Regions from separate parts of the Homo sapiens genome. Here regions 1, 2, 3, 4, 6 and 7 are each linked to region 5. Evidence: fine-mapped QTL for protein levels in blood plasma. A gene starts in region 5. Each other region holds a variant in brackets. All regions are shown on one strand. Distances are from middle to middle.

Region 1 (4,065 bases), 76 kb before region 5:
AATATATGAAAATATATAAGAAATACTATATAATATATAAGAAATACTGTATAATACTAGAATAAAACACAGATTATTTCAATAATCTTGAAGTGGTGACAGCCTTTCTAAGAAGGCATGAAACTCAAAAGACTTAAAGGGAAGGATAAACAAATTTGACTACGTGGAAATTAACATTTTACACTTGGCAAAAGACTATAAACAAAGTTAAGAGACAAATTAGAGGCTGGAAGAAAACATTTATACCAAGTCAGCAGAGAAAAGATTGATCACACTTATTAGAGTCAAAGATTTCCAACAAATTAACAAGCAAAGGGCAAACATCTTAAAACAAAAAGACAATGCAGAAAAGAAAATACAAATGTCTGGCAAATAAGTGGAAAGATGACTTCATTCATGATTAAGGAAATGCAGCTTTTAAAATCGGTTTTCCTCCTAAATAGGCCAAAAAAAACCCAAAAGTCTGAGAATGCCAAGTGTTGGTGAAGGTGTAGAAAAATAATCAGTCTCCTACCCTCTTGGGAGAAATGTAAATTGACACCACCATTTCAGAGAGCAATTTGGCAGTTTCTCTCAGAATACTGAATGCCCATACCCTTTGCCCCAGAAATCCCGTACGGAAATCTACCTCGCAGAAATACTTGCACGCCATGCAATCATGTTCATGGCGGCAATGTCTGTAATTGATGAAAAATTGGAGCTACTTAAATGTTCATGATTATGGGACCAGCTAAAGAAAATATGACACATCCCTGCCTTGGAATTTCATGCAGTCACCAATAAAGATTGGGTCAATTCAGATGGCTGATACAGAATATAGTTAATAAAGTAAAAATATAGTGAGTTGACAAAGCATGACCACACTTTCATTTTTTAATTTGCATGTAGTGTGACCATGAATAACACACACACACATACACACCGCTAGGGAGTTTGTGGGACTTATGCTTTTTGTCATATGCTTCTATTTTTTATGGACTTGTTTTTACTGAGCATGTATTACTTTTAGACTTTTATAATTTTTTAAACCAAAAACATAACTGAGTAATAATTGAAAATTTAAAGTCTATAAAGACAAACGCATTATGTTTCATTTCTTAAGCCTGAGTCTACTTTCAGCCAGAGCAACTCCAGGCTGCAAGTGCAGTTCTATGAAGATTGTACCTTTATTAGGTTGGTCTCAGGTATTGCATGCAGGCGGGCACACATGCCACCCACACCTACACACCTCTACACACACACAAAGTTCTCCCACTCTGCATATGCACGTGCATCACACATTTTTACAGTTTCTTGAGCAGCTCACAGAACATTTTCGAATGTATTTGTTGGTGCAAGGGAATAAATAGCCAGAGCCGAGAAGGCAGAAAGGGACGCTTTGAGATTGAAAACCCCATACTACCTCCACCATCCCAGGCAGGTGAAATATCCCGTGACATCCTTGTGCCCCTCTGGCTTCTGGCTTTTCCCATTTGTCCTCAAGATGAGTGAGCCCAAGAAAATGTGGCCATCAGGATGGATGCTCATTGACTCAGGGCTGTGTGCGGCTTATGGGTCCTCGTCCCTGAAGAGTGTGAGGTTGTGCTTTTGGATGTGTCCCAGCAGCACCTGTCCTCGCTGCTCCAGGGTCTGGAGGACCTGCTTCAGCCCCTGGGCTCCGC[C/T]TTGGCTTTCCCAGAACACTGGGTCCATCTGCAGCGACTTCAGCAGCATGTTCTGTAGACACCCTGATGCGAGAACCTTCACGGCAGACTCAGGAAACCTGGAGCAAAGGCCCCAGAGCCCCGTAACAGAAAGAAAAAGCAACAGTAATCTCAGAGAATTTCAGTAACAGGTGATGCCAGATGGCCAGAGCTTGCATAGCTGAGGAACTCTGGTAAAGTCACCTGGCAAACTCCCCAGACCTGCACCTGCTATCTCACTAACAGAGGACCCTTTGCCTGGCTTTGCTGTGAAGGCAGGGGACAGACCTTTCAGATGGGTCCCATCCTACAGAGAAGCCAGGTGAATAAATTCCGCTATCCCAGGCTCCACTTGGCAAATGCAGGGCCAGAAAGAATCCTGGGAAGGCAGAGCTGCCTGCCAAGAGTGAGCTGGGAGGGGTAGACTCTCTGGCCTAGCTCTCTCACCCAGAACAAGGGAAGGACTAGCCTTCCCACACCCCAGCAATACAGCTAGTATTCTGCAGGCACGAGGCCCTCTGGATATTGGGGTAGGCCCTGCCAACTGTATCCCCTCTCAGCTTTCCCAGGGCTCCCCACCACCGCCTAAAGTTCTGATCCAATAACTTCTGTCTGATGGACTGTGGGCTTCTCAGGGCCACAGTTGAAGGTCCCAAGGTTTGCAGCAAGGCCATCAGGTCTCAGTCCCATGAACTTCCACCCAACCCTTTTGACCCTCACCCATCTATGCCCTCCAGCAGCCGAAAGTTCAGCTTGTCCTCAGGGTGCTGAAGGTTGCCAGCGTTATCGATGTAGACCAGGTGAGATGGATCGCTGCTCCGGACCTCAGGGAAGAGGGTGGACAGAGACAGAGGTGGGTAAGGGTGCAGCTACGGCTGGCACCTATGGACTTGGTCAAGATTAAGGGGCTGACAGCCCTGAGCTGTCAGTCCCACAGTCCATCCTAACAAACAGTCCTCACCGCTGAGTGCTTACTCTATGCTGGGCACTGTGCTAAGTGCTTCCAGACATCCTGTCAATTAATTCTCCCAGTAACCTTAGGAAGCAGGCACTAGTGTTAGCCCTATTTTACAGAAATGGTGGCACCTTCTTTAAGTTAAGCAATTTGCACAAAATCACACAGCTAGTAAGTAGCTGGGCTGTTTCAAACCCGGACCCATGGGGCTAAGCCATAGCACCATCTGCTAAATCGCAAGGCCAAAGGACTGATCCTATTTTGGTGGCTGAAGGGGTGAGGAGCAAGGGTGGGAATCAGCAGTTGCCAAGGTAGCCTGCTCCTCGGGGCCACCGGCTGTGAGGGGCATCGCACATGTGCTGCTCACATGTGTACACACACTCAGTCACCCCTTTGTGCCACCTGTGCCTGTGCACCTGGGCATCCCCCTGAGCATCACTGAGATCACAGACATATCCTTTATCCTCAAAAAGCACTGACCATAATCTGATTCTACAGAAGAGTTTAGCAGCTCCTAAACCTTTTCAAAACCAAAATCAGCACCAGAAAATTCTTTAGTACCTTAAAGAATATGGTGTGGTTGCGAATGGGAGGCCATCTCTTCTGGTCCCCACTCCCATGCATGCACTCCTTTCCCAAATAGCCTCCAAAAGTCCATGGGCATTTCCCACAATCCTCTCCAGTGGCCTAGGCTTAAGCTATGAACTTCTGTTTCCAGGACTCCAGCTTCCCTTCTCTCTGCCTCTTCTCCTTTCTCACCCCACTCCACATGTCAGGATCACCTTTTGCTCAAAGCCAGGTGACTCTTCCCTCTGGAAACTGCTGTCCTAAAAGATCTGTGAAATGCCTGCTCACCAGGGGTAAACAATGGCTATTAAAACTTTGTCTCTCCCATGGATATTTACCTTTGACCAGGGAAAAGGAGAGATGGCTCTGGGGGTAGGGGAGGAGAATTCCCAGCACCACCACTAAGCAATCCTGGGCTTCGGGTGATGCGGCCTCCCTGAAGCCCATCCCTGGACACCATGCTGACAGCTACCCTCTAAGAGCAAAGGGAGGCTGTGAGGACACTATGCCTCACTGCAGGAGAAGATAGAGAAGCCCTTCCCCGGGGGAAGCACCTTGCTTCTTATGCAGAAGAAGTGGCTATTCTGCCCTCTCCAATGGCCTCGGCACATTGCTTCCCACCCTGGACTCTAGTTTTGACAGGAGCAGCACCAGCCTGTGAGCCACTGCAGTCTTGGGTTCATGCCCTAATGCTGCTAGCGTATGGCCTTGAAGATTCCTTTCCCTCCAGACTGCAATTCCTCATTTACTGGCACAACGAGGATGTTGACTAGACACACCATTCTCAAACTCTACTTCCAGGAGCCCTAGTTGTTCCCTGGAGTCTCTTAGGGGCAGTGGAGACAGTGAAAACAAGGCTCCAGC
Region 2 (4,065 bases), 81 kb before region 5:
ATTCTTCCAACCGCGACTCTCGTCCATCGGAGCACTCACTCTCTGGATCAGCCACAACCTCTCTGGTGCCTTTGAAACACAGAGTGCCTGGGGGTGCAGACAGAGGAGGATAAGCACTCATGCTTCCTACTTCCACTCAGTTGATAATAGTCTGCCCAGCACGGGCCTACAGTATGGCAGAAGTCAGTTAAACCTCAGACCACTGAGGCACGTGGGCTGGCTCCTCACATCCCTCCAGCCTCATGGGGGATGAACGGGCCAAGGAGCTGCTTGGCTTCCTTCCAATCTCCAGGCTCCCAACCCAACTCAGGGAACCCACATCTGACATTCCACTCAGGGTGGGGGCCGTGGCTAGGGGAGGAGGAGCATCGCATTCACCCCTCCAGGGGAGAGCCATCGCCTGCATCCTTGGCCAGGCCTTTCTGGACTTCAGGATCCTTGTCTGCAGAACAAAGGGGTTTCAGCCAAGTCAGGATGACTCAAAGTGCATCTTGAGGAATGCTGACAGACGTTACTTAACGCCTCTGTGCCTCATCTGTAAAACAAAGATAACAGCAACACAAAGGCCACAAAAAAACCAAAGGAAGGGCTCTTTGACAAAATAAGTTTAGGAAGGGCTGCACTGAACAGGGCTCTGGCCTCAGGACCACAGAGCCTTCAGATGCTGCTGTGGCCACATCGCCAAGATGCACCACACCCAGGGCCTCCACCTTGGAAACTTCTGAAGTCAAAGATCTCAGGATCCCTGAAGCATCTGTCCAGCATCACGGGTAAAAATTTGCTGCTCCCATCTGTGTGGCCTCAGGCAAGCCACCTCTCTTTTTTCCCTCCCCGCTACCTCTGTCATTTGTTCCTTATCTGTAGGGTAACCATAATCAAATTGGGGTTGTTGTTAGTCATTCATGAGATAAGATGTGTAAAGCCCTTAGCATGAGTTATTACAGGTCTGTCCAGAATCCCATACTCAAACCCTGGGGGCCAGATGTGATTCAGAATTCTGAATCTCTCAGATTTAGAAAGGTAATATGGTTCACATGCCGTGCATTATGCAGTGCCCTCAACAGAGTCCGAGGTTACACCCAATAACCCAACACATCACTATTTCTGCAGTAAGTTGTATAAATATTCACACTGAGTGGGACATGAGTTTTAGCACCAAACATACAAAAAAGCTTTTGATTTTCATGCTCTGGGGAATTGCTGGTATCGCATCTAGAAGGTTGCGAACCTGTGTTACTATCTTCAGCTCCTCTAGCTTGGAAACCATCATTTTTCTTGGAGCAGCCCATTCAGCTGGGGATGCAGGAGGAGCAGGTTGGACCTGGGGTGAGGCCTGTCTGGCAGCACGGAGGCTGGCAATTGTGATTGCCTCAGCAGAGCCTCTGAGGCTCATCTGTCTGAATCGGAGCAGAACCCTCACGGCACCCCACCCACTGCAGACCCATGGCAGCTCCAACCCTACAGACTCTTCTACGCTTAGTGGGAACATACTGATTCCCAGCTGTTTGCTTCACTTGGCACATGGTTCTCATTCCAGAGGGAATGGCTGGGTGAACAGCAAGCACTGAGGCAAAGAGGCTTTCTTGAAAAGGATAAAAGTGGATGAAGTTTCCAGTTTGCAGGAAAGACACAGCTAATAGATTAGGCAGACTTTAACAAGCCAAGAGCCAAATGCATGTGAATGTGCTTGGCCAGGAGTTGCAGTTTGCGGCTCCCTGGACTAGAGAACCAGCCCTGCCACATCTTTAACAGAAAGTTCTTCTCCTGCTAATCCTTCTGAATCCAAAGGGATTAGCAGAAGAGGAACTGTCAGGGTGGCTGGGCTGGGGAGTGTGGTGGGAAAAGCGGTGGTCTTGGAAGCGAGACTTGCTAGCACAGTTCCTGATGGGTTTGAAGTCCCACCCTTCTACCTACAAGCTGGGTGACCTTAGGTACGTTATTTAACCCCTCTGTGCCTCATCTGTAAAATGGAGAGAGTAACAATCACACCTCCCCATGTTGTTGCTGTGAGGTTAAATGCTTTGATCCATGTAAACCACCTATCCTAGGGAGTCTGCCCTTCTCCCCGCCCCAGGTAGGAAGAGGTCAGTGTTGATGGGAGTGCCTGGAAATGGTGTCCTTCCCAGATAAGCTAAGGAGGGAGAGCTGGGTCCTATGCCACAGTGCTACAAGTGGCTGCTGTGCACTGGGCAGGCTGAGAGGGGCCACTC[C/T]GTATCTGCCCATGTGCCCCCACTGTCTATGCTGAGCAGACCTGTTCACATCAGCACACAAAAGGGCTTGGTGCAAGCTGGGGCCTTGCTCACTGACAGGAAGAGTCTGGCTTGGTCTTTTCAAAGAGAAACTCTACATACACACACACACACACACACACACACACACACACACACACACCACAAAACCAGGCAACCCTGCCAGGCAGATTTCCCCTCCTTTCTTAGGCGGCCACCTCTGCCCCATTTCAGTGTAAAGGAAACCTGCTCTCAGAATGTGGCTCAGTTTGCCTACCCTTCCAGCTGCCGGGCCAGTGCCTTCACCTGGATTACTAGTTAACTTTGTTTAATTCTTACAGCCAGGCAGTATGGAAATCAACAAAGACCACCCAAGGGAGAACAGACAGAGGCTTGCTACGGCAAGGGGGTCAGCACCATCACTTGCATTTGGCAGGGACTCCAAGACAGGCAGGGACTGGGAAAGCTTTATAGTGAGAAAGAAAGGGAAGGCTCCAGGTGCACCCTGATTGGAGGCTGCTGGCATGAGAGACACTGGAGATGGGCAAACTAGAGGTGGGGCATCCTAACTGATTGGTTAGGGGAGCATATTTGGCTTTCTCTGATTGATCCTGAGTTGGAAGTAGGGACAAAAATAAGGAAGCTGGCAGTCACTGACTAGGTCTTCACCCTACTGAGCAGATGCTACAGACATTGTGGTTGGTTCTCTGAGCTGGTTGCTACAGAGGTGGTGGATAGAGTTTTATTATTATATGTAGTTTGGGCATTGTCCACTTGCATGTCAGTCTCTCGGTGGTGAGACAGGATTAGATCTGTTTTATTTCAAAGCGGCTGGTTAAGTCACAAAGTAGAATGAGCCTCATCCTAATGTGAGAGCTCCACATTATGTTTTGCAATGAAATGTTTCTTTGTATTCCTTTCTTCTTGCCATTTTCTAGGATGACAAGTGTCTCACTCCCACCTCTGGCTGAGTGTAGGTCTACCAGGCAGAAGGCAAAGCAGAGACTGTTAAACAGAAACTGGCTGAGGCCTAGAGGAACAGCATCACTTGATAAGGGTATCCTTGGAAAGAACTGAGAACACAGGAAGAAGAGAGGAGAAAAGACAAAAAGTCAAAGTCAAATAAACATTGGTGACCTTAAGAGAAATGCCTGAAATCTCTAAATCCAAACTCCCTTTTCCAAGGGCCTGAGTCTTGCCCAGGACACTTCTACATTTCCACGCCCACTGAATATGCCAGGCATGTTGGTTTATTGCAGGCCCCTGTTACCTATCTCCTACATTAGGTTGTAAAAGATCTAGCAAAAGGCACAGGGCCCAGATGGTTTTATGGGAGAGTGCTATAAAACTTTTGAGGAATAAATGGTTCTTATTTAAACTCTTACAAAGCATTAAAAAGATAAAATAAAATTCTGAATTTATTTTATGAGGTATGTTTAAATTTAATAGTAAGACAGCCATGGAGTGCCCAAAAAGGAAAACCTTATGAATGTATATGCAAAGATTCTAAGTAAAATATTGGCAAGTTAAATTCTGCAGTTCCCAAAATACTAACATACCTCAGCCTAATAGGTTTTTTCTGAGAATGTAAAGATTATTCAGCATTAGAAAATAAAGGAGAAAAACTATATGCTCAATAGATATTGAAAAGAGCATTTAATAAAATTCAATCCCCATTCTTGATTTTTGAAAAATGGTTTTAGTAAGCTAAGAATAAAAAGAAACTTCCTTAACTTAATGAAAGATATTTATCAGAAATGATTTCTTTAAACCTGACAAAACATAATAGAAACCACAGAGGTGTTCCCATTAAAGTCCAGAATAAGATGTGGATGCC
Region 3 (4,063 bases), 50 kb before region 5:
GCTTGCTTTTCCTTCTAGGGCAGCCTCTGCTGAGGCCTGCAGACCCATGCTCTTCTGTCTTATTCTCCCTTTGAATAAACTGCCATTACAACACTGTCACCATGCAACATAAGGGGCTTTTCTCACGTCTGTCCCCATCACCAAGAGCTGACCTTCTCTTTTTGTCTCCATGTGATCCCATGGGCCCATTCTGGCAGATCTCTTGATGTCCCCACACACATGCCCTTACCCTTTGCCAGAGCACATGGCCACCCAGTTAGAGATGACTTTGCCAGCCTCCTTAGCAACAGGGTGTGACCATGTGACCAAGTCCCTGACTATGTCATGAGAGCCAACCACTTTTGCCAGCCCCACATGCTTAAAAGGAAGTTAGCCACCCTGGCCTTTCTCTCTTGCCGTCCCTGCCGGTTGCACACAGATGTGGCAGCAACAGCTCTGCACATGTTAGCAAGGACACACCCTAGGGGCAGTGATTTCTCAACATGCAGTCCTTGGATTACGTTCAGGTCTTAGTTATTCAGTTAAATATATTCTATGCACACTTCAGTCAACTCTTGGTTGACTGAAGTTCAC[G/A]TGGGACCAGCAGTATCAGTATCACCTGGGGACTTGTCAGAAATGCAAATTCTCAGGGCCCCACACCAGAATTCCGGAATCAGAAACAGGGGCTGGGCAGCCTGTGTTTTAAGAAGTACTCTGGGTAATTCTGATGTGGGCTTAAGCTTGAGAGCCACTGCTCTAGGGCATCATGAGCCACAAAAGGGAAGGAACGCAGTGTCTGGAGCAGTGCAAGCCTGCAGTTGGGAGTCTCTGTACCTGTGAGCCTTTATGTGACAGACCTACAGGCAGAGCCCTGGTACATAATGGGAATCAACAGATACGTGACTGACAAAATGAATGGACAATCTAGTCCAAATCACAAAAAAACTCCCCAAATTAAGTTTACTTACTAAATCCACCAGATATTCCTTAGAGATTTTTGATACTATATGCAGTGTGAGGCAATTTGCTGGAATGCACAGAAAAGGCACACGGGTAAACAGAATTTTAAAGGTGTCAAAGAAACAACACCCACAAAACAAACCAGATCCCACTTTTTTCCCCGCATGTGCTTGCTCTTCTGAGAAGCTCCCCTGTGGGTGTCAAAAGGGGATTATCCGGGATCTGCAGTGGACATGTAGGTGAAGTCCATCCTCAGTAGCCCCCTGCTTTCTCTCAAAAGTACCACCTCTATCCCCCACAATCCACCCGAGCCATATCTATCCAGGGACCCCGACCCATGACCTAAGCTGATGGGGCCATCCTGGATCCTGACCCATGCTGGGCCAACAGATTCTCACCCCCAACCCCAGCCCTGGGAGCATGGGCTTGTGATAAATCAGCAAGGCTGACTTGTCCTGCTCATGAAATAGAGAGCAGGGGCCCATTGCCACCCAGCCAAAGATGACAGCAGTGGGCCATACTCTGTTGAGAGCCAGTCTGCAGGGAGAGAGAAGGAAACCGTTGCATAGACAAACCAGAGATGAAAACAGGAGGAAAGGCCTTGCCCAGCATCCTGCACTGCAGTTCCAATTCTGAGCCTGGCCCAGGAACAGCAGTAGCCACCGCCTGGGGCTCTTCGGGACTGCGCAGCATCCACGAAACCCATTCTCACTCTACACTTGAGCTGTGGGTCGTGGGTACTCCTGCTACATGCAGCCAAAAAGGCCTAATCCAGGTCATCTCTGAGTTCCCTTTCCTCTACAATTAAAAGAGCATTTCCTGGCTGGGCGCGGTCGCTCATGCCTGTAATCCCAGCACTTTGGGAGGCCAAGGTGGGTGGATCACTTGAGGTCAGGAGTTTGAGACGAACCTGGCCAACATGGCGAAACTTTGTCTCTACTAAAAATACAAAAAAGTAGCTGGGCGTGGTGGCGCATGCGTGTAATCCTAGCTACTTGGGAGAATCACTTGAACCTGGCAGGAGAACCGCTTGAACCCGGGAGGTGGAGGTTGCAGTGAGCCAAAATTGCACCATTGCACTCCAGCCTGGGTGACAGCAGCAAAACTCCATCTCAAAAAAATAAAATCACAAAAGAGTCTTTCCTCCTTCAGTACCCATTTGACCTTCCCCTTCCTTCCAACGGCATGGCCTGGAGGAATGCCGCCCCTCATGAATTTCCTAATTTGTCTGTGTTTTCAGTCCCTTCTAAGTCAGTGGCAGTTTCTGCAGGAACCGAACACATTTCTCAGCACCGTAAACATCAGAAAATAATCAAAAGGAAGTGGAAATGGGAAATCTCAGTTACAGCCCAGCTGTAAAAAGTGCCCATGGCTCCCTCCTACCTCCAGTTCCTCTACATTGGTTCTCTCCCTGTCCTAACCCCTTCTGCCTCCTGGACATGAGGCCAGCATCTCCCTCTTAGCACCTCCATGAGTGGTGCACTGATGTCTCTTGGCCCCACTTTTGCCAAACACCTCAGCTGCAGGAAGCCAGTGTGTGGATCCCACTCTCTGGACCAGCTCCCTCATCTACAAGGGGTTGGGTTGGATGAAATAGCCTTTGAGGCCTCACTTCCCCCAATACCCAGTGATTCTAGCTCTTGGTGGACAGTGGAGGTGGACTGACTCAGCTGTGGGCTCCCCTGAACCTCCTCCTCCTGTCCATGTCAAGCACCTGTAGCAGAACACAGCTGCACAAGAGGACGCACACACCACCATTGCCCAGTAAGTCAGTGTAGGCCCTGGAGGGTGGCTTTCAAAGAAGAGGGTTGAAATGAGGGTTTTCTGCCCCTGCCCAGTCACCACCGGGAGACACAATCACTCCCCTTGGCCTGAACAGTGAGACCATGATAACCAAAGCCTCCCTTGCAGCTCTGAGCTGATCCCCCAAGACTCAGTGGGACATGCCAATACAAGGCGACTCAGGGCCAATGGATACTTTCCATCCACCTGAAGCTGCTGCTGGAGGGACCACTTAAGCTCACCTTCCCTCCCCCATACCTGGAGGGGAGGAGACAGTAGAGAAAATCCCCTCTGGCCTCTGGCACCCACGTGCTAAAATATCTTCCCCCCTCACCTGACACCCCATGCATTAATGCTTCTGTGAAGCCAGCAGGTGAGCCTATATGTCCCAGGGCCACAAAGCCCTGCTTGGACACCCTGCTTAAGAAGGGGTGGGGTGGTGACCAGCAAGCAGAAGGGGTGGGGCGGGGACCAGCAAGCTAAATAAACAGTGGGGAAATCAGGTGAGTCATGCTTCTGATGTCCCCCTCACTTCAGCCAGGGCCTCCAGGGCCACAGGGCAGGGAGACAAAGCCTAGAGAATATTTTCCTTGTAAGTTGTGTGGTCCTCTAGACAACCTGTGCTCCCCAAACCTGGACTGCATCTGGAATCTCTCGCCTGCTTACCAGAGATGGGACAGAACAATGGTTCTTAAACTTGCTCTGGGGATTCCTTCATGTTCTCCCATGGGGTGGGGGGTTAGGAGATGACTCTGTGTGCTCTGCACTTGCCACCCCCACCCACACACACATACACTTCCACCAAGAGAGCTCTGTGTTCTTTCATTAGGTGGGTTTAGCTAATTTACATTACTTGATATGCCATACATATTTAGTCTTAGTTCTGTTGTAATATTTTATGGTATATTTTCTGTATTGTAAATTCAAAATAAAATTCTAAGCCCCCTGACCATCTGAATGGACCCCTCCTTTTGGCCAAGGGCCTTCCAAAGTTAACCTGAAAAACTGGTTCAGGCCATGATGGGAAGAGGAAGCCAGACATGCCTCATTATACCGTCCTCCCTTTTGAAATTTAGGCCCAGCTGACCAGCATTGACATCAACACAGACCTTAAGACTGTTAGAACAGCCTCTTTATGTCTGATAAGAAACATTTACAGTCTATTTCCTCAAGCCAGCTACCTAGAGGCTCCAACTGCATGATAAAGCCTTGGTCTCCACAAGCCCTTATCTTAACCCAGACATTCCTTTCTATTGATTCTAAGTCTTTAGACAATAACTTAACTCTTTCAATCAATTACCAATCAGAGAATCTTTGAATCTACCTATGACCCAGGAACCCC
Region 4 (4,065 bases), 31 kb before region 5:
CCTTCCTGTGACCCCATTGCCCCTTCCTGTGACTTCACACTGCCCCTTCCTGTGGCTACACACAGCTCCTTCCTGTGGCCTCACACTGCCTGTGGCTCCACACTGCCCTTCCCTGTGACTTCACATAGCCCCTTCATGTGACTTTCCACTTCCCTTCCTGTGACTTCACACAGCTCCTTCCTGTGGCCTCACACTGCCTGTGGCTCCACACTGCCCTTCCCTGTGACTTCACATATCCCCTTCATGTGACTTTCCACTTCCCTTCCTGTGACTTCACACAGCTCCTTCCTGTGGCCTCACACTGCCTGTGGCTCCACACTGCCCTTCCCTGTGACTTCACATAGCCCCTTCATGTGACTTTCCACTTCCCTTCCTGTGACTTCACACAGCCCCTTTCATGTGACTTCACACTGTGCCTTCCTGTGGCTTCACACTGCCCCTTCCTGTGGCTTAACAGAGCCACTTCCTGTAAGTTCACCCTGCCCCTACTTGTGACATCACACAGCCCCTTCCTGTGGCTTCACACTGTCCCATTCAGTGGCTTCACACTGCCCCTTCCAGTGGCTTCACACAGCTACTTCCAGTGGCTTCACACAGCCCCTTCCTGTGACCTCACACTGCCCCTTCCTGTGACCTCAGAAGCCCCTTCCAGTGGCTTCAAACAGCCCCTTTCTATGGCTTCCCACAGCCTCTTCCTGTGACTTCCCTCTGCCCCTTCCTGTGACTTTCCACAGTCCCTTTTTGTGACTTCCCACTGCTCCTTCCTGTGACTTCCCATTCCCCTTCCTGTGGCTTCACACAGCCCCTGCCTATGGCTCAACACTGTCCCTTCCTTTGGCCTCACATTGCCCCTTCCTTTGGCTTCACACTGTCCCTGTTACTTCACACAGCCCCTTTATTTGGCTTCACACTGCTCCTTCCTTTGGCTTCACACTGCCGCTTCCTGTGACTTCACACTGCCCTTTTATCTGGCTTCACACTACCCCTTCCTATGACTTCACACAGCCCCTTCCTTGGCTTCACACAGCCCCTTCCTAACGTCACACTGCCTCTTCCTGTGGCTTCATACTGACCCTGTGGCTTCACACAGCCTCCTCCTGTGACTTCACACAGCCCCTTCCCTTGGCTTCACACAGTTCCTTCCTGTGATGTCACGTAGCCCCTTTCTCTGGCTCCACACAGCCCCTTCCTGTGACTTCACATAATTTCTTCTTATGACATCTTCCAGCCCCTTCCTATTGTTTCACACTGCTCCTTCCTGTGACTTCACTCTGCTTCTTCCTGTGACTTCACATTGTCCCTTTCTGTGACTTCACACAGCCATTTCCCATGGCTTCACACAGCCTTGACTTGCTGCAATTCAGTGTGTGCTAAATCCTAGAAGCCAGCCCTGCCTTGTAAATGACAGCCCACACAGTGGGTTCTTACATACAGAAAAAGGTTCCTATTTGCAATAAAAATCTCTTGTGATCTCCTAACCATTTTTTTTTTTTTTTTTTTTGAGATGGAGTCTCACTCTGTCGCCAGGCTGGAGTGCAGTGGTGCGACCTCGGCTCACTGCAACCTCTGCCCTCCAGGTTCAAGTGATTCTCCTGCCTCAGCCTCTCAAGTAGCTGGGACTACAGGCGCACGCCACCACACCCAGCTAATTTTTATATTTTTAGTAGAGACAGGGTTTCACCA[T/C]GTTGGCCAGGATGATCTTGATCTCCTGACCTCGTGATCTGCCCACCTCGGCCTCCCAAAGTGTTGGGATTACAGGCGTGAGTCACCATGCCTGGCCCATTTCTTAATCTGCCTAAGCAAATGCCCTCTTGGCACATTTGAAGAAAACTATTTTGAACAGTTAAAAACACTATAGATATTTTACCTTAATGGATTTGTTGGTGGGTGGAGAGGGGGGAGTTGGGGAAGGTAAGAGGCTAAAGGTCCATGGCAGGGTGCAATTTGAAATTCCTCTGAGGCTCAGATCTGAATCTCATTTACTTCAAGCAAATATGGTAGGAGGAGCCATCCATGTGTCCATGGCTGTCTGCCCAGGTTCTGCTGCTTAGCTTCCATAGCATAACATCAGGGATATTGTAATCTTATTATGTGATGGAAACTTCCTTGGAGAACAAATGGCAATAGCTAGTGCTGGGGAAGGAATGAAAACCAAAAGAAGCCTTAGAAAATGATGGTTCTCAGTTGGGATGGGTGTGGGGAGGAAGTGGTACACAGGGAGACAAGACCTAGAAAATATTAGCTTTTAAAGCAAGAAAGAAAGGAATGTCAAACTTAGAGATGGCAGAAATCTATAATCCAAATGAATTCTCCACCCTCATGAAATACGAAAAGCAATTCAAAAAATCGTTTCAGCAAAGGCCTCAGCCAAGGTAAAAATTATTTTTCAAGGACAGTGATAGAAATTGAAAATTTAACTCTTGCAGCCCACTCTACTGTATTTCATGGGAGAATATAAAATGCTATAATGGTGTTTCTCAAATTCGGGGATTTGAGAAAGCCTCAAGAACTAGGCTTTCTTGAGAAGCCCTGAAAGCATTAGGGTTCTACTGAAGAGTATGGCCTAGCAGGAAGAAGGCTCTGGCTGGGTAATATCTGAGTACGAGTTCACCTTTTCAGACTCCCTCCTTCACCAGAGTGGTTTCTGTTATTGTAGGTACTGAGTTGCTATATATAACGGCCTGGAACCCAACATGTGACTGGTAGACAACAGGGAGTGAAGGATACTGGGAAAGGCATATGATGTTAGGCACGTACTTTGGAGACCCTCAGGGAACCAGTGTGGGAATCCAGAGCACCCTGGGGCAGGAGGCAGCTTCCTCCAAAGGAACAGTGTAGGGGTGAGGTTGCTCCCCAGAAAAATTGTGCTGCATTACAATTTTATCCTTCTATTCTGACCTCCCCTAATGCCAAGCACTGGACCAAGAAATAAGGACACCAGTGCGAAGAAGGCTTGGCCCCTGCCCCCCAGCAACTCACTGTCTCAAGTGAAAAGGTAATGATATAATAATTTCCCTCATGCCAATTCTGGCAAATCTAGCCTTGCCTACGTTCAGGCCACTTATCTTTCCAAACTTGTGGGACAGGGCTGGTGAAGCATGGAATGCTGGACAGCAGTTCTGGGTGCCACCACCTGAGGTCTCCACCAACATCTGATGACACCATGAGTTTGTTACATGTTTTTCACTGTTATGGCTAGAAGGATGTTGCCTCCAGATATTCTCACAATGACTCTAACAGGTAGGAAGGAAATATCATACCATTTTATGGCTGAGGAACTCGAAAAAGAGACTTCAAAATTTGCTCAAGGTGACACACCATCTAAGTAGAAGAGCTGAGATTCCAACTCTGGCCTCCAGCCTGCAGAGACCAAGCCCTTCCCAGCACACAGGAGCCAGTTCTGGCCCTGGGGACTTCAGGGCACATGGGGGAAAGAATTAGCTCAGGCCATCAGGGGTTTATCCAGAAGCATTTTCAATGCGCCCAGATAACCTGGGGGAAGCAGTGCTAGCAGAAGGATTTTAAAGACCTGAGAAATACCTGGATCCGTCTCTTCATTACATTGGCTGGGGTTCCTGATACCAGCTGAGACATGGGAGATGATGAGTTGTGTTATCTTTCAACAAATACTTACACTCACTTCAGAAAGGCAACATCTAGAAGGATGCGCTGAAGGATACACAGGAGCTGGACTCTCTAGGTCCAACCCCCCAGCTTTGCCCTAATAAGCATATATCTTCACATCAATTTCTGCATCTGAAAAATGAGTATGAAAATGGTTCCTCCCTCAAAGAGTTGCTGTGAGGATTCAACATATTTTAATGTATATAAAGTGCTGAGAACAGAGCCTTGCATACATTTTTATAGTTATTACTTAGCATTATCATTAAATCTCATGATTATTAAATCTCCAAGGTACTTGGGAACTCCAGCACCTCCTTTAAGTTACTGCCCCATGCCGCACTCTCTCCATCTGTGGATGGGCTGGTAACAGTTACAGTCACAGCATTCTGAACACTGGCAAACCATAACTGAGAGGAAAGCGTGTGAAGAGGTTTCAGGGAC
Region 5 (4,065 bases):
TGACCACTCTGTGGACATAGGGATATCTTGGGAAGTGCAGCTTTGAGCCCCAGCTTTCTCCCGTTCTCTCAGCCTTCTTGCCCTGTGGTTCTCAGCCCTGGCAGCACACTGGGCTCACTTGCAGAGCCTGAAAACATCCCTTGGTCTGGGTCTCATCTGGATTTGGGCTGGGGGATGGGGGCAGCCTGAGTCAGGGCTGAGAACCACTTCTTCCCCACACCTTTTTAGTTGTTCATGCTAAGCACAGCTCAACACTAGAATTGAGATCCAATCTCAAAATTATTCACATATCACCCATTTTTGGAGCTAAATGGCACCTTGAATAACATCTAGTCCAATCTCTCATCTAACAGAAGAGGAAACTAAGGTCCTCAAAGGATTCCTAGCCCCCTGTCTCCTCCCATGCTGCTTCTAGCCAGTGCCAGGCTGCCCTGTGGTCTCTGGACCTCAAGACCCTTCATTCAGATGGAGAAGCAAAGGACAGCCTTCAGATCTCCAAGGCCATTTCACTGCCAGAGGATGACCATCAGGCCCCTCTCTCTGCAAGTGAACCCTGAGACAGTGAAATGTTGACACAAGTCCTCTTCCTAACACAATACCAGAACCCAGAGCCAGGGACGTGAAACCGGGAAGCTGCAATGACTCACAGAACGGGAAGCTTACGCTGGCAGTGGGGCAAACACACCAATGTTCCCCTAGGCAGCCTGAGCAGAAGGCAGGTACCATCTCTCCTCCAGGCACTCTGCTTCAGCCGCAGACCACAGAGCCTCTGCTACATTTGCCTTTAAAGCCAGGAGACTCCAGCATGCTAATGCCCCTCGGAGTGGATGGCTGTGGCCTGAGTTCTGGTAACACTCTTGCTCCTAAACAGGGAATTTGTAATAGGATATCTCCACACTTTTCGTTTCACATCCTGTACCCCCAATCATTCCCCCTTTTGAAGCTTAAGATTCCACTATTTCCTTCTCTTAGCAGCTTTGAGAAAAAACCTGAAGCTGGATAGGTGTTAGGAGGGGTGAAACATACACACACCCCTAGCCTCAAAGGTACCCTTCCCTGAGCCCCCAGCTCCTTATGACCAGCCCTCCACCTCTGTTCCAGCCACCTGCCAGGCCCCCCTGCACACAAAGGAGCTGTTCTCACAGAGACCCTCCATCCTACAGCGCAGTCTCTAGACAGCCTTCTAAACCCCAGGCCCAGCAAAACTCCCCACAAAGCATCTCCAGTGGGTTCCGATCTGCCTTCTGTGAGCTTGGAAGGAAAGGGAAGAGGCGAGCAGGCACGGAAGCAGCCAGGGGAGCCCAGTGAACTGCAGGAGCCCAGTTGGGGTTGCAGGGGTTTTCTGCTGCGGGAGAAGCAGAGCAACTAACCAGCGGCCGGGCCTGAGGGACGCCCCTTTCCTGGGGTTGCATGTGTCCTTTAGCTAAGCCGCCTGGGCCACATTCTCGATGGGTTTTTCTTTTCTGCCTGTTAGTGTCTGTGAAGTTGATCAATGGAAGGGCCACGTCCACAAGATCCTGGTTTCATCGTGACATCCCAGACCCACCAGTGCTTCCACATCTGCCCAACAGTCCTCCTGTCGGGGAGGTAGAGGAAGGCGGATTGGAACCTTACTAGAGCCAATTTAACTCAATGTTAATTTAGTTATTAAATGTTAATAAACGTTAGGACATTATTTTTAATATCAATACATAGCTAAATTAGAGAAGATAGTATAAAATTCACATGAACTTTGGAGAGTATTAAAATGACTTCAAAAGCATCTCATCAGAGGCTGCCGTGGGTTCCCCAGGGAACGCTCCCCTCTCCCTGCCTTGTGGATTGCATGAAGATTGCAGAGTTGCGAGTGGGTTACGGTTAGGTCAAGGAGTGCAGATTAGTAATAAAAGCCCCCTTATTACGGTCCGCCCCACTAAGAGCGGCAGGAAAGCCGATCGCCCCCAGCTCTGGTGCAGAAATGAAAGCCGCCGCCGCCCCATGCAACTTTCGGGGAACAACTCCGGCCTCGGGAGGCCGCGCAGGCTGCGCGCGCCCTGGGCCGCTGCGCGTTGACTGCAGCCACCTGTCCTGGTGATCGCCCCACCCTCCGCTCGCGCGTTCCTTCCCGCGAGTCCTACCATGTCCCCGGCGGTGCCCCGGCCGGCTCCTCGGCGCGCTCAGCCGGCTCGCAGACTCATCCCGCCTCCCCTTGGCCGCCCCCGGCGCCGTGGCTCGCCAGGCTTCCCAGGATGCGCGGCTACTCGGCTGGGGCGGGTTTCCCGGACTGAAGGTGCACACGTTCTCTGCAGCCAAGTGGCCCTGCGCCAACTCTCGGGAGATCGCTGCACACCGGGATACTCCGCGGGTGGGGAATACACGCCGGATCTACTGAGATCTACGGGGATCTGAGGGAGCCTACCCGCGGCCGCGAGCCTCTGCGGTCTACTCGGGACTTTTGCAGAGTTTGCAAAGTCCCTGCCGCGCGTCCCGGCCCAGCTTCCCCATTCCCCTGAAAGCGCGGGAGGGGGAAGCTCCCTTCACAATAAAAGCCCTGCCGGGGGCTCGGCCAGCCGCAGTCTTCTGGTCTTCTGGAGTAGGGGCCCAGGTGCTAGGAAGGAAAGGTCTACGCCCTGACTGCCCGCCTGACGGGTGATGCACCAAGGCTGGACGGTGAGGGACGCCTCTAAGGTGTGAGGGTGCTTGGTGAGTTCGCTGCAACTCAGCAATATGGCTGAGTGTTGCCCAAACTGCCACCCTCTCCTGCCAAGCAGGACAAGTCTTTTTCTTTACTGTCGCTTGTCAGAAGGACAAGTCTTTTTTTACTGTCACTTCTTCGCCTTGTTTGGGTTCAGTCCCCAAGAGGATTTGGAAGGAAAATCCGTTGACCACTAAGCTAATTAACAATGAAGAGTTTTTGTCCTTGAGAACTAATCACTGTTAAAGTCACTGAAGTAAGTGGCTGATACCTCTCTGCTTTGGATGCACAGACAGTGCCTTTGTGTCCCCTGAGTCACCTACTGCCAACAAAGGCACAGTCAGAGCAAGACCTGAGAGTCTATCCGTTCCCCGTTGGGGAATGTCCTGGGCTTAGGGGTTCTGTAGTCCCAAAATCAGGGCTAGCCCCACTATTAACAGCTGGATGACCATCGACCAGTCCCCAGACGTCTTTATGACTTGTGTCCCCCAGTGGCCCAATGTTTGGACCCCAGGATTATTAAGAGCCTGTAGACAATGGATGGAGGCGAGGCAGAGTCAGCAGTAGGGTGCTCTGAGAGAATTTGGGGGCCAGGCTGAAAAATTAGCCTCCAGTACTGAAACTAACAGGAAGCATCATTAGCTAGATGAAGACAGGCATCTTCCCAGCAGTCTCCTGCCCCAGAATGATCTGAGGTTATCACTGATGGCAGTGCTTCTAAAGGGAAGCAAAGATCCAGAGAGTCCCCTTAAATTGTGTATGTGTGTATGGGCAGGAGGAACAGATGAAGGGAAAGTATTCGGTCCTTAACATTCCAGATGCTTTCTGTACATTATTTCATTTAATAACCACAAACGATCCTAAAAGGAAAACTTTTGCAAATTAGGAAAGTCAGGATTAGGGAGGTGAAGTAACTTTCCTGAGACCAGATCGCCAGTAAACAGTTTAGCAAATCCAAGTCTATTTGCCAGAACATGAAACAAAGAGGAAGACTTGATATGGCAGGAACAGGAGGCAGGATGTAGCACTGCAAACTGCAGCTTGTCTGTGCATATGGACTACTGAAAGGACAGAGAGTTTGAGCCCTGGTTGGGAAATGAGGGAAGAGGGTGGAGGACAGTACAAACCATTCAGGGTTTTATTTAGATGTTTAGGGAGACGCTGTGATCTTTTGAGTCTCATTTTCTGACTGTGACCCCACACAAGATATATATTAAACATATATGTATAAATGTAACTAAAAGATTGTTTTATAAAACATTACTTCATGTGATGCACTCTGACATTTTCTATTCTATTCCAATTTTATGTATTTTTAATGATGGTCTCAAATCACTAACTTAGACAGGAAGAGAGTGCCCAGTATTTCCAGGATTACTGGAAGCAGAACT
Region 6 (4,065 bases), 99 kb before region 5:
TCTCCCATGCTTTTGTGGGCCTCTCCAAGATCACTACCTGGTACCAGTATGGCTTTGTGCAGCCCCAGGGCCCGAAGGCCAACATCCTCGTCTCAGGCAATGAGATCCGGCAGTTTGCACGGTTCATGACAGAAAAGCTGAACGTGAGCCACACAGGAGTCCCCCTAGGCGAGGAGTACATTCTGGTCTTTAGCCGAACCCAGAACAGACTCATTCTGAATGAGGCAGAGCTGCTGCTGGCACTGGCCCAGGAGTTCCAGATGAAGACAGTGACAGTGTCCCTGGAGGACCACACCTTTGCTGATGTCGTGCGGCTGGTCAGCAATGCCTCCATGCTGGTCAGCATGCATGGGGCCCAGCTGGTCACCACCCTCTTCCTGCCCCGTGGGGCAACTGTGGTAGAGCTCTTCCCATATGCTGTCAATCCCGACCACTACACTCCCTATAAGACGCTGGCCATGCTGCCTGGCATGGACCTCCAGTATGTAGCCTGGCGGAACATGATGCCAGAGAACACAGTCACACACCCTGAGCGGCCCTGGGATCAGGGGGGCATCACCCATCTGGACCGGGCTGAGCAAGCCCGTATCCTGCAAAGCCGTGAGGTCCCACGGCATCTCTGTTGCCGGAACCCCGAGTGGCTCTTCCGAATCTACCAGGACACCAAGGTGGACATCCCGTCCCTCATTCAAACCATACGGCGCGTGGTGAAGGGCCGGCCAGGACCACGGAAGCAGAAGTGGACAGTCGGCCTATATCCAGGCAAGGTGCGGGAGGCACGGTGCCAGGCGTCAGTGCATGGCGCCTCCGAGGCCCGCCTCACTGTCTCCTGGCAGATCCCATGGAACCTTAAATACCTGAAGGTGAGGGAGGTGAAGTACGAGGTGTGGCTGCAGGAGCAGGGGGAGAACACCTACGTGCCTTACATCCTGGCTCTGCAGAACCACACCTTCACTGAGAACATCAAGCCCTTCACCACCTACCTGGTGTGGGTCCGCTGCATCTTCAACAAGATCCTCCTGGGACCCTTTGCAGATGTGCTGGTGTGCAACACGTAGCGAGCAGGCCACAGCCTGGCCTCGGGAAGGTGGCTCCTGCAGTTCAGCGTCCCTGGGCCCATTAATCCCACTGTGGAGACTTCTGGGAACTATTTATTGAGCAGGCCTGTGCCTCCACATCATCTTGTTGTCTCTGGGGTGTGGTGTCACAGCACTCCTCTTTGCCCTAGAGATAAGGGACCTGACTTCCCCTTCTCCCATCCTGAACATTTGTACCCCTGGAGAAGTTCCTTAGCAGGGAGGAGGAAGAGGAGAGGAGGAAGCAAAGAATCACAAGGAACCTCTGGCTAGGTGATCCTGATGTTTCCTACTGAGTTTTTCTGGTATCCAGATTTCTGGAAACCGAGTAATCATGTACTGTTTGATTGGGTGGTTCATCTGCTTCCATCCCAGTGAAATTTACCTGTAGCCCAGTGAAGGGTGTGTTTGGAACATTCATTAAATGATTCTAAGCATCTTGGTCAAGTCTTCTTATTGGATGGGAGGAAGGGGAGCTGGTCGTCAAAACCCAGGTGCCCTTTAATCTTGATTGTTAGCTAGGGAGACGTGGCAATGGGAAAGCGCCCAGGATGGCAAAGTGAGCAAGCTGGTTGGATTTCATCTTGACTAGCTGGACTAATATCACAGTTCCACCTACATGGGATAAAAGCCTAGAAGTAGGTAGGAGA[G/C]GGCTGAGGGGAGGAAGAGCTGTATCCACCATGGGTTTTTTTTTGGGCTCAACTAGACATTAAGACTCGCAAGACCTGGACAGATCATACCTGGCATCAGAGTTTCTTAGAAGGATGGAGAGAGATGCTCAGCATGCCAGCAGGGCCATGTCAGCAGTTCCCTTCCACAGGAGCAGTCCTTACATCAGTACTCCTGAGGGCCACCTTGATTCAGAAGCCCATGCCCCATAGGAGTCAATGTGTTTTCAACAACCCACAATCAGAGTTCCCAGGGTCCCTCAAGGGACATGCCCAGTTATGAGTTTCTGCACTTAGGGAAGCCTAAGGCCATGGTTTCTTACCAGATGGTATAGCTTATTCTTTGTCCTTCCAGCCCAGGTGTAGCTTATCAATCAGAGGTCAAAAACTCCCATGGGCAGTTTGGCCTAATACTGTACCTGACATTCAGCTAACTGGCTTGTCTGGCTTCCATGGGAGCAGAGCTAGAAAGTTAGCCCAAGATAAAATCTGTCCTGAAGAAAGAGGAGTTTTGGCCTTTTATTGTTGGGGAGACCTGCTGCAGGTCTGACTCCTGTAAGGGGGAGAGGGAGAGAAGCTGGGGAGAGGAGGTAGAGCCTCAGGCTGTAGCTCAGTGCTGAGAACCTCTCAGCAGGCTGATCGGGGAGTTTTGAGCCAAAGGTGTCCATTAGATAAGTATTCCCTCCCACCCGCCGATGCTAGTCGTCACCTGGGAGCCGCAGTGGGAAGTGTGGCCTCAGCATCAGTACCTTGGTGGATTCAGCATGGCAGCTGAGCCATCCCTTGTTCTCTGCTGCAGGAGATCTGAATGGTGCATTTTCATGGTCGCCATGGATCTTTATGACATTCCTTTCATCCAGAATATCTTTCTCCCTAACTGTAGCTTCCATCTGCTGCCACCATAAACTGCCATGAGAATCCACACATCAAGACTCAGCTCAAAGCCAGAGATCTCATACACTGCTGGGGCTGGGGGAGTGAAATGGTACAACCACTTGGAAAACCATTTGGCAGTTTTTACTAAAGCTGAGCACTTAGTTGTCCTATCTCTCAGCAATTCCACTTCTTGAGATATATACCCAAGAGAAATGAGTGCTTATGTCAGCAAAAAGACATGTCTTAAAATGTCCATGGTTCTACTCTTAATGGCCAAACACCATAAACAATTCAAGTGTCCATCAACAGGTATATTCATACAATGGACACAACAATTTTAAAAAGAATGAAGTGAATCTCAGACAACATTGAGTAAAAGAAGGCAGACCCAAAATACTTACTGTATGGTTCCATTTGTATGAAGTCCTAGAACAGGAATACAAACTTATGGCGATGGAAGTCAGAATGGTGGTTACCGGGAAAGGAGGTAAAGACTGGGATGGACACAAGGGGGTTGTGGGTTGGCAACATTGTGGTCTTGGATGGTGGTTGCACCGTGGACATTGAGGAAAGCCATCATCCTGCTTACACGGTACATTAGTGCACTCACTCACCTCTGTGCTTTCTGTATGGCACACCTTGATTTAAAAGGAAGACCACTTAGCCCAAGGGCCAGCTCTCCTGAAAACCCAGTTTGTCACACCCAAAAAGCCTTAACTCTGCTGGCCCCGCCACTGTCTCCCAGGAAGCACTTACCTCTCCGCAAGACCTTGCTCACAGGCTGGGAGCTCAGTGAGGGTTTGTGTCATGTGGGTCACAGCCAAGCGAAAGCTCAATGAATGGTTCCTTGCCTCAATGAATATGTGTATCTCTGCCTTTGTCCAAACTTTTTTACAAATTGGGAATCCGCTTTATGTGAAATTTTGCCCCCCTCTTTTTTTTCCTCTTTAACATTAAGACATGAACACTCTGCCATGTCACTGATGACTATTCTTTGGAAACAAGACTTTGGTTAGCTAGAGAACGTTGTGTACAATCACTAGGAAATTAGCCTCCTTCCCCCAGGCTCCATGGAGGAGCTGGATCCATGCCCAGCAGCCCAGGCCACCCCTTGATAGCACTGAATAGTAGCAGCATTTTTTCTTTTGCTGCTGCTGCTTTTTTTAAAAAAAACCATTTATTGGTGTTTATGGTGAAATACTCAGATCGTCAGTGTAGAGTTACGTGAGTTTTGACAAATACATACATCCATGTAACACACACATCCCTACACGATAGAGACCATCTCCATCATCCTCATATTCATAGGGGGATGAATGTATAAATAATCTCTTATGACTCCTATATATACATACATACACAAACACACACAGGAGTGATAAGAACTTACGTAACATTAGGGGCATTTACATTTCTCTATCCTGTTTATTATAAATCTGCATCTT
Region 7 (4,065 bases), 110 kb before region 5:
GTTCTAGAAGCCAGAAGTCTAAGATTGAGGTGTCAGCAGGGCCATGCTCCCTCTGAAGGCTCTAGGGGAGAATCCTTCCTTTCTTCTATTTTGCTTCTAATGGTTTTGGTCATCCGGGCTGGCTCTTTGGCTTATAACTACATCACTCCAGTCTCGTCTTCATCTTCACATGGCCTTCTGTTTCTCCGTGTGTCCTTTTCTGTCTCTTTTAAGGGTAGTCACATTGGATTTATGACCCATCCTCATCCAGTATGATCTCATTTCAAGATTCTTATCTAATTGTCTGTGCAAAGAGCCTTTTTCCAAATAAGGTCATCTTCTAAGGTTCTGGGTAGACATGATTGCCTGAGTGGGAGTCACCTCTCCTTTCTCCCTTCTGAGAACAAAAAATGAAGCCACTCCTTTGTATCCTGGCTTAGCTGGGCTTATGTTTATTGCTGGCATCCTGCTTCATAGTTTATTGCTAAACAGGTGAGAAGCCCAGGTCAGCGTGATGCTTTATCTGATCATCCAGGCACCCAGGAGCCAGAGAGGCATAGCAGCATGTCCAGTGTCACAGAGCAAAGTGATAGACCTGATCTGAAGTTCTGCAGGGTTCCTGCTGCAACGTTTGGCCCTTTGTCTTTCCCCCATAGTACGTGATAGGGAAGAGTCACATGCATGGCATACTCCTATGGGCATACAGGTGTTGTTGAAACCCAAAAGATATTTTGCAGTGAAGTAAAGCAGAACAGTAACTCATACTAGCTGTTGCTATTAATAAGGCATAACTAACATGTAGGCTGCTCACTGCTGCCCACAGCTTAGGCAGTGGGGTTGTGGGTTCTTGTGCAAGCTAAATGGTGATCCTCATCTTCCTGACTCAAGATGTATCAGAAAGCAACTGAGTGATGGTGATGTGATTATAAGGATGACATTGAGCCTACTCTAATTTATATACAGAAGAAATAAGAAAACATTTCCAAGCTTTTAAACTGATAAGTGGTAATGTGATTCATGGCCTGCTTCTTTGGTTAAGAGCTACTTGGTTTTCCTCAAACCTGTTTGTACCCCAGAATCACCTGGGAGCTTGGTTAAAAAAAAGCAGGATGCCAAGGATACCTCAGGTTCTGGTCAAAATAGAGTAGACAAATTTATCCCTATCCCTTTTACTAATATAGCTAAAAATACTGGACATTATATATAAAACATTGGAAGACTGAAAGGTGGAGAAAAGAGTGAACCAGCTGGGGATCCTGGAACTCACAGAACAACATAATGGTGAGTTCTCTGGGTTTTCTTCTTGCCTCCTATATATTCTACCGTGGTGCTAGAGAAGCCCACAATCCAGGAATGCCAGTGAGCACAGAACAAAACAAAGCCCCAAGGAAGCTTGGTCTCTTTTGTCAAAGGACTGGAAGAAGGAACAGTTTAGCAAAACTTTTTTTTTTTTGCTGTAAATACCCCATTCCTGCAAAACACCAGGGAAAATTTCCTCCTCCTCCACCCCTCAGTTTTAGTAAAGGCCAGATGGATAGCGTATTAGTCCGTTTTCATGCCGATAAAGACATACCCAAGACTGGGCAATTCACAAAAGAAAGAGGTTTATTGGACTTACAGTTCCACATGGCTGGGGAGGCCTCACAATCATGGGAGAGGGCAAGAAGGAACAAGGCACATCTTACGTGAATGGCAGCAGGCAAAGAGAGAGCTTGTGCAAAGAAACTCCTGTTTTTAAAACTATCAGATCTAGTGAGACCCATTCACTATCACGAGAACAGCACAGGAAAGAACCCCCCCCAACCCAAGATGCAGTCATCTCACACCAGGTCCTTCCCACAACATGTGGGAATTATGGGAGCTACAAGATGAGATTTGGATGGGGACACAGAGCCAAACCATATCAGATAGCCTAGACTTCCACCTTTGCCTAGGGGTAACCAGCTGCCCCACACCCTCCCCACTTGATGGGAAGCCTAGACTTTCACGACCGCCTAGTAGTAACATACGTCCTTCACTACCATAGTCCTCTTGGGGCCTAGACTTCCATCCACACCCCAGGGTGTCATTGGAGGCCAACTGCAGAGCCTGGGTTTTGACACCCTGACACACACTCTGTGCTGAGTATCCCTCCCCCTCCCAGCCACGATGGTATTGGTGGAGGCTGAGTAGGGAGCCTGGATGCCCACCCCCGCCCAACAGTAAAGAGTCAATGCTCTCCTTTCCCCCACCAGTACAGTTTTAACAGAAGCTACTAAAATAGAAGATTTAAGTAAGATCCAGAGTATCATAACATTATGACC[G/A]AAATGTCCAGGATAAGTTTTAGCAAAAAAAAAGAAGTTATAAAAACTAAATGGAAATTTTAGATATGAAAAATAGAGTAAGCAGAATTTTAAAATTACTGAATGGGCTCAATCAGGAATAAAAAGGACACAGGAAAGAATCAGCGAACATGAAGCCAGAATGATAGAAATCATCCAGTCTGAACAACAGGGAGAAAAAATACCGGAAAAAAATTAACAGAGCTTCAGAGATCTGTGGGACAGTACAATTTTTTTTTTTTTTTTTGAGACGGAGTCTCGCTCTGTCTGTCACCCAGGCTGGAGTGCAGTGGTGCGATCTCGGCTCACTGCAAGCTCCACCTCCTGGGTTCATGCCATTCTCCTGCCTCAGTCTCCCGAGTAGCTGGGACTACAGGCGCCCGCCACCATGCCTGGCTAATTTTTTGTATTTTTAGTAGACATGGGGTTTCACCATGTTAGCCAGGGTGGTCTCGAACTCCTGACCTCGTGATCCACCCGCCTTGGCCTCCCAAAGTGCTGGGATTACAGGTGTGAACCACCGCCCCTGGCCAATACAATTTTTTTTTTTTAATCTAGCATTGGTGTAATTGGAGTCCTAGGAGAGCAGTGTGGGGCTGAAAAAGTTTTCAAGGAAATAATGGCTATTTCCCACATTTGGGGGAAGGCATGAGCCTACAGATTCAAGAATCTGAGCAAACCCCAAAGAGGATAAACCCAAAGAAACCCACACCAAGGCACCTCAGAGTCAAACTTTTGAAAACTCAACAAAATCTTAAGAGCAGCAGGAGACAATGCATTCCCTCCAGGGAAAAACAATTCGAAGGGTAGCAGTTCCTCATCAGCAGTCACAGAGGCCAGAGGAGGTGTCACAGCATCATTTTTCACATACTGAAAGAAGGAAAATCTGTACCCCAAATTCTATACGCAGTGAAAATATCCTTTAGGAATGAAGCTAAAATCAGACATTTCGACATGAAGGAAAACTAAGAGAATTTGTTGCCAGGAAGTTGACCTTAAAAGAATAGTGAACTAACAGAAGTTCTTCAAAGAAGGGATATAGGAATGGAAGGAAACCTGGAACATCAGGAATGAGGGACGAACATAAAGAGTAAAAATATGGGTGAATATAATAGATGATCCTTTCCCTCTTGAGGAAATCATACTTGACAGTTGAAGCCAAAATTACTGTCTGATGTGGGTCTCATTATATGTAGAGGAAACACATAAGACAATTATAAAGGAACCTAGGTGGAGGTAAAGTTTCTACACTTATTCGAAACGTAAAATGTCAATACCAGTAGACTGTGATAAGTTACAGATTATAGTATGATGCCTAGAGCAACCACTAGAAAATCTATATCAAGGGATATACTCAAAAACACTACTGATAAATCAAAGTGGAATTCAAGTAATTCACAAGAAGGCAGGAAATAAAAGAAACAAATAATGCAGATGCCTGAGCCATACTCCAGACCTACTGAATCAGAACCTCCAGGACTGGTGCCTGGGAATATGGATTTTTATTTAGCAACTACTCCTGAGGATTCCAGTAATCAGCCAGGCTTGAGAACATCTGGAGTAGACCAGTATTTTTTAAACAGTAAGTTGCCAACCTGGTGAGTAGGTCGGAAAGTTAATTAAGATGATTATGGGCAGGTTTTTTGTTTTGTTTTGTTTCTGTTGTTGTTAATGAACTTAGAATACAGTGTACTAGAAAAAAAAAGCTAGAATGTATGATACTTGGTCACGGTAATTTTCATTTCCTGAAGTTTGGAGGTGGGGA

Which allele goes with the higher level. Positions count from the first base shown, and alleles are read on the strand shown. Strength reflects both the effect of a copy and how common the allele is.
For the plasma level of the protein whose gene starts at base 2,452 in region 5, T is the low allele of the variant in region 1 and C is the other (strong association).
For the plasma level of the protein whose gene starts at base 2,452 in region 5, allele T in region 2 goes with a lower level than allele C (strong association).
For the plasma level of the protein whose gene starts at base 2,452 in region 5, G is the high allele of the variant in region 3 and A is the other (strong association).
For the plasma level of the protein whose gene starts at base 2,452 in region 5, allele T in region 4 goes with a lower level than allele C (moderate association).
With allele C in place of G in region 6, the plasma level of the protein whose gene starts at base 2,452 in region 5 is higher (moderate association).
In carriers of allele A in region 7, the plasma level of the protein whose gene starts at base 2,452 in region 5 tends to be higher than with G alone (strong association).

The links. PIP is the chance, under the fine-mapping model, that this variant and not a neighbour inherited with it causes the effect. The UK Biobank Pharma Proteomics Project read protein levels with antibody pairs (Olink). The fine-mapping took linkage between variants from a reference panel, not from the people measured, so its PIPs are less certain.
Region 1: its variant is fine-mapped to the plasma level of the GASK1A protein (UK Biobank, PIP 0.97). The variant lies in the coding sequence of GASK1A. If it changes the protein, the assay may bind it differently, which can mimic a change of level.
Region 2: its variant is fine-mapped to the plasma level of the GASK1A protein (UK Biobank, PIP above 0.99).
Region 3: its variant is fine-mapped to the plasma level of the GASK1A protein (UK Biobank, PIP above 0.99).
Region 4: its variant is fine-mapped to the plasma level of the GASK1A protein (UK Biobank, PIP above 0.99).
Region 6: its variant is fine-mapped to the plasma level of the GASK1A protein (UK Biobank, PIP above 0.99).
Region 7: its variant is fine-mapped to the plasma level of the GASK1A protein (UK Biobank, PIP above 0.99).

What each region holds. Positions count from the first base shown.
Region 1 is chr3:43,053,870-43,057,934 of GRCh38, reverse strand. It overlaps GASK1A (golgi associated kinase 1A), which reads right to left. Exons shown (of 5, transcript NM_001129908.3): 4 at 2,400-2,503; 5 at 220-1,759. The coding sequence ends at 1,549. Among named protein-coding and RNA genes, the nearest start is that of POMGNT2-AS1, 30 kb to the left of the region's middle. The variant C/T (reference allele first, on the strand shown) is at 1,662.
Region 2 is chr3:43,059,070-43,063,134 of GRCh38, reverse strand. No RefSeq gene overlaps it. Among named protein-coding and RNA genes, the nearest start is that of POMGNT2-AS1, 25 kb to the left of the region's middle. RefSeq lists an enhancer at 41-560. The variant C/T (reference allele first, on the strand shown) is at 2,211.
Region 3 is chr3:43,028,004-43,032,066 of GRCh38, reverse strand. All of the region lies in intron 1 of GASK1A (golgi associated kinase 1A), which reads right to left. Among named protein-coding and RNA genes, the nearest start is that of GASK1A, 51 kb to the right of the region's middle. The variant G/A (reference allele first, on the strand shown) is at 574.
Region 4 is chr3:43,008,817-43,012,881 of GRCh38, reverse strand. The region is part of intron 1 of GASK1A (golgi associated kinase 1A); the gene reads right to left. Among named protein-coding and RNA genes, the nearest start is that of GASK1A, 32 kb to the right of the region's middle. The variant T/C (reference allele first, on the strand shown) is at 1,684.
Region 5 is chr3:42,977,698-42,981,762 of GRCh38, reverse strand. GASK1A (golgi associated kinase 1A) reads right to left here and starts at 2,452. Exons shown (of 5, transcript NM_001129908.3): 1 at 2,118-2,452. The coding sequence starts at 2,120.
Region 6 is chr3:43,076,682-43,080,746 of GRCh38, reverse strand. POMGNT2 (protein O-linked mannose N-acetylglucosaminyltransferase 2 (beta 1,4-)) reads left to right here. Exons shown (of 2, transcript NM_032806.6): 2 at 1-1,513. The coding sequence ends at 1,058. Among named protein-coding and RNA genes, the nearest start is that of POMGNT2-AS1, 7.3 kb to the left of the region's middle. RefSeq lists enhancers at 119-618, 619-1,120. The variant G/C (reference allele first, on the strand shown) is at 1,727.
Region 7 is chr3:43,083,131-43,087,195 of GRCh38, reverse strand. All of the region lies in intron 1 of POMGNT2 (protein O-linked mannose N-acetylglucosaminyltransferase 2 (beta 1,4-)), which reads left to right. POMGNT2-AS1 (POMGNT2 antisense RNA 1) reads right to left here and starts at 1,162. Exons shown (of 2, transcript XR_007095896.1): 1 at 1-1,162. The variant G/A (reference allele first, on the strand shown) is at 2,283.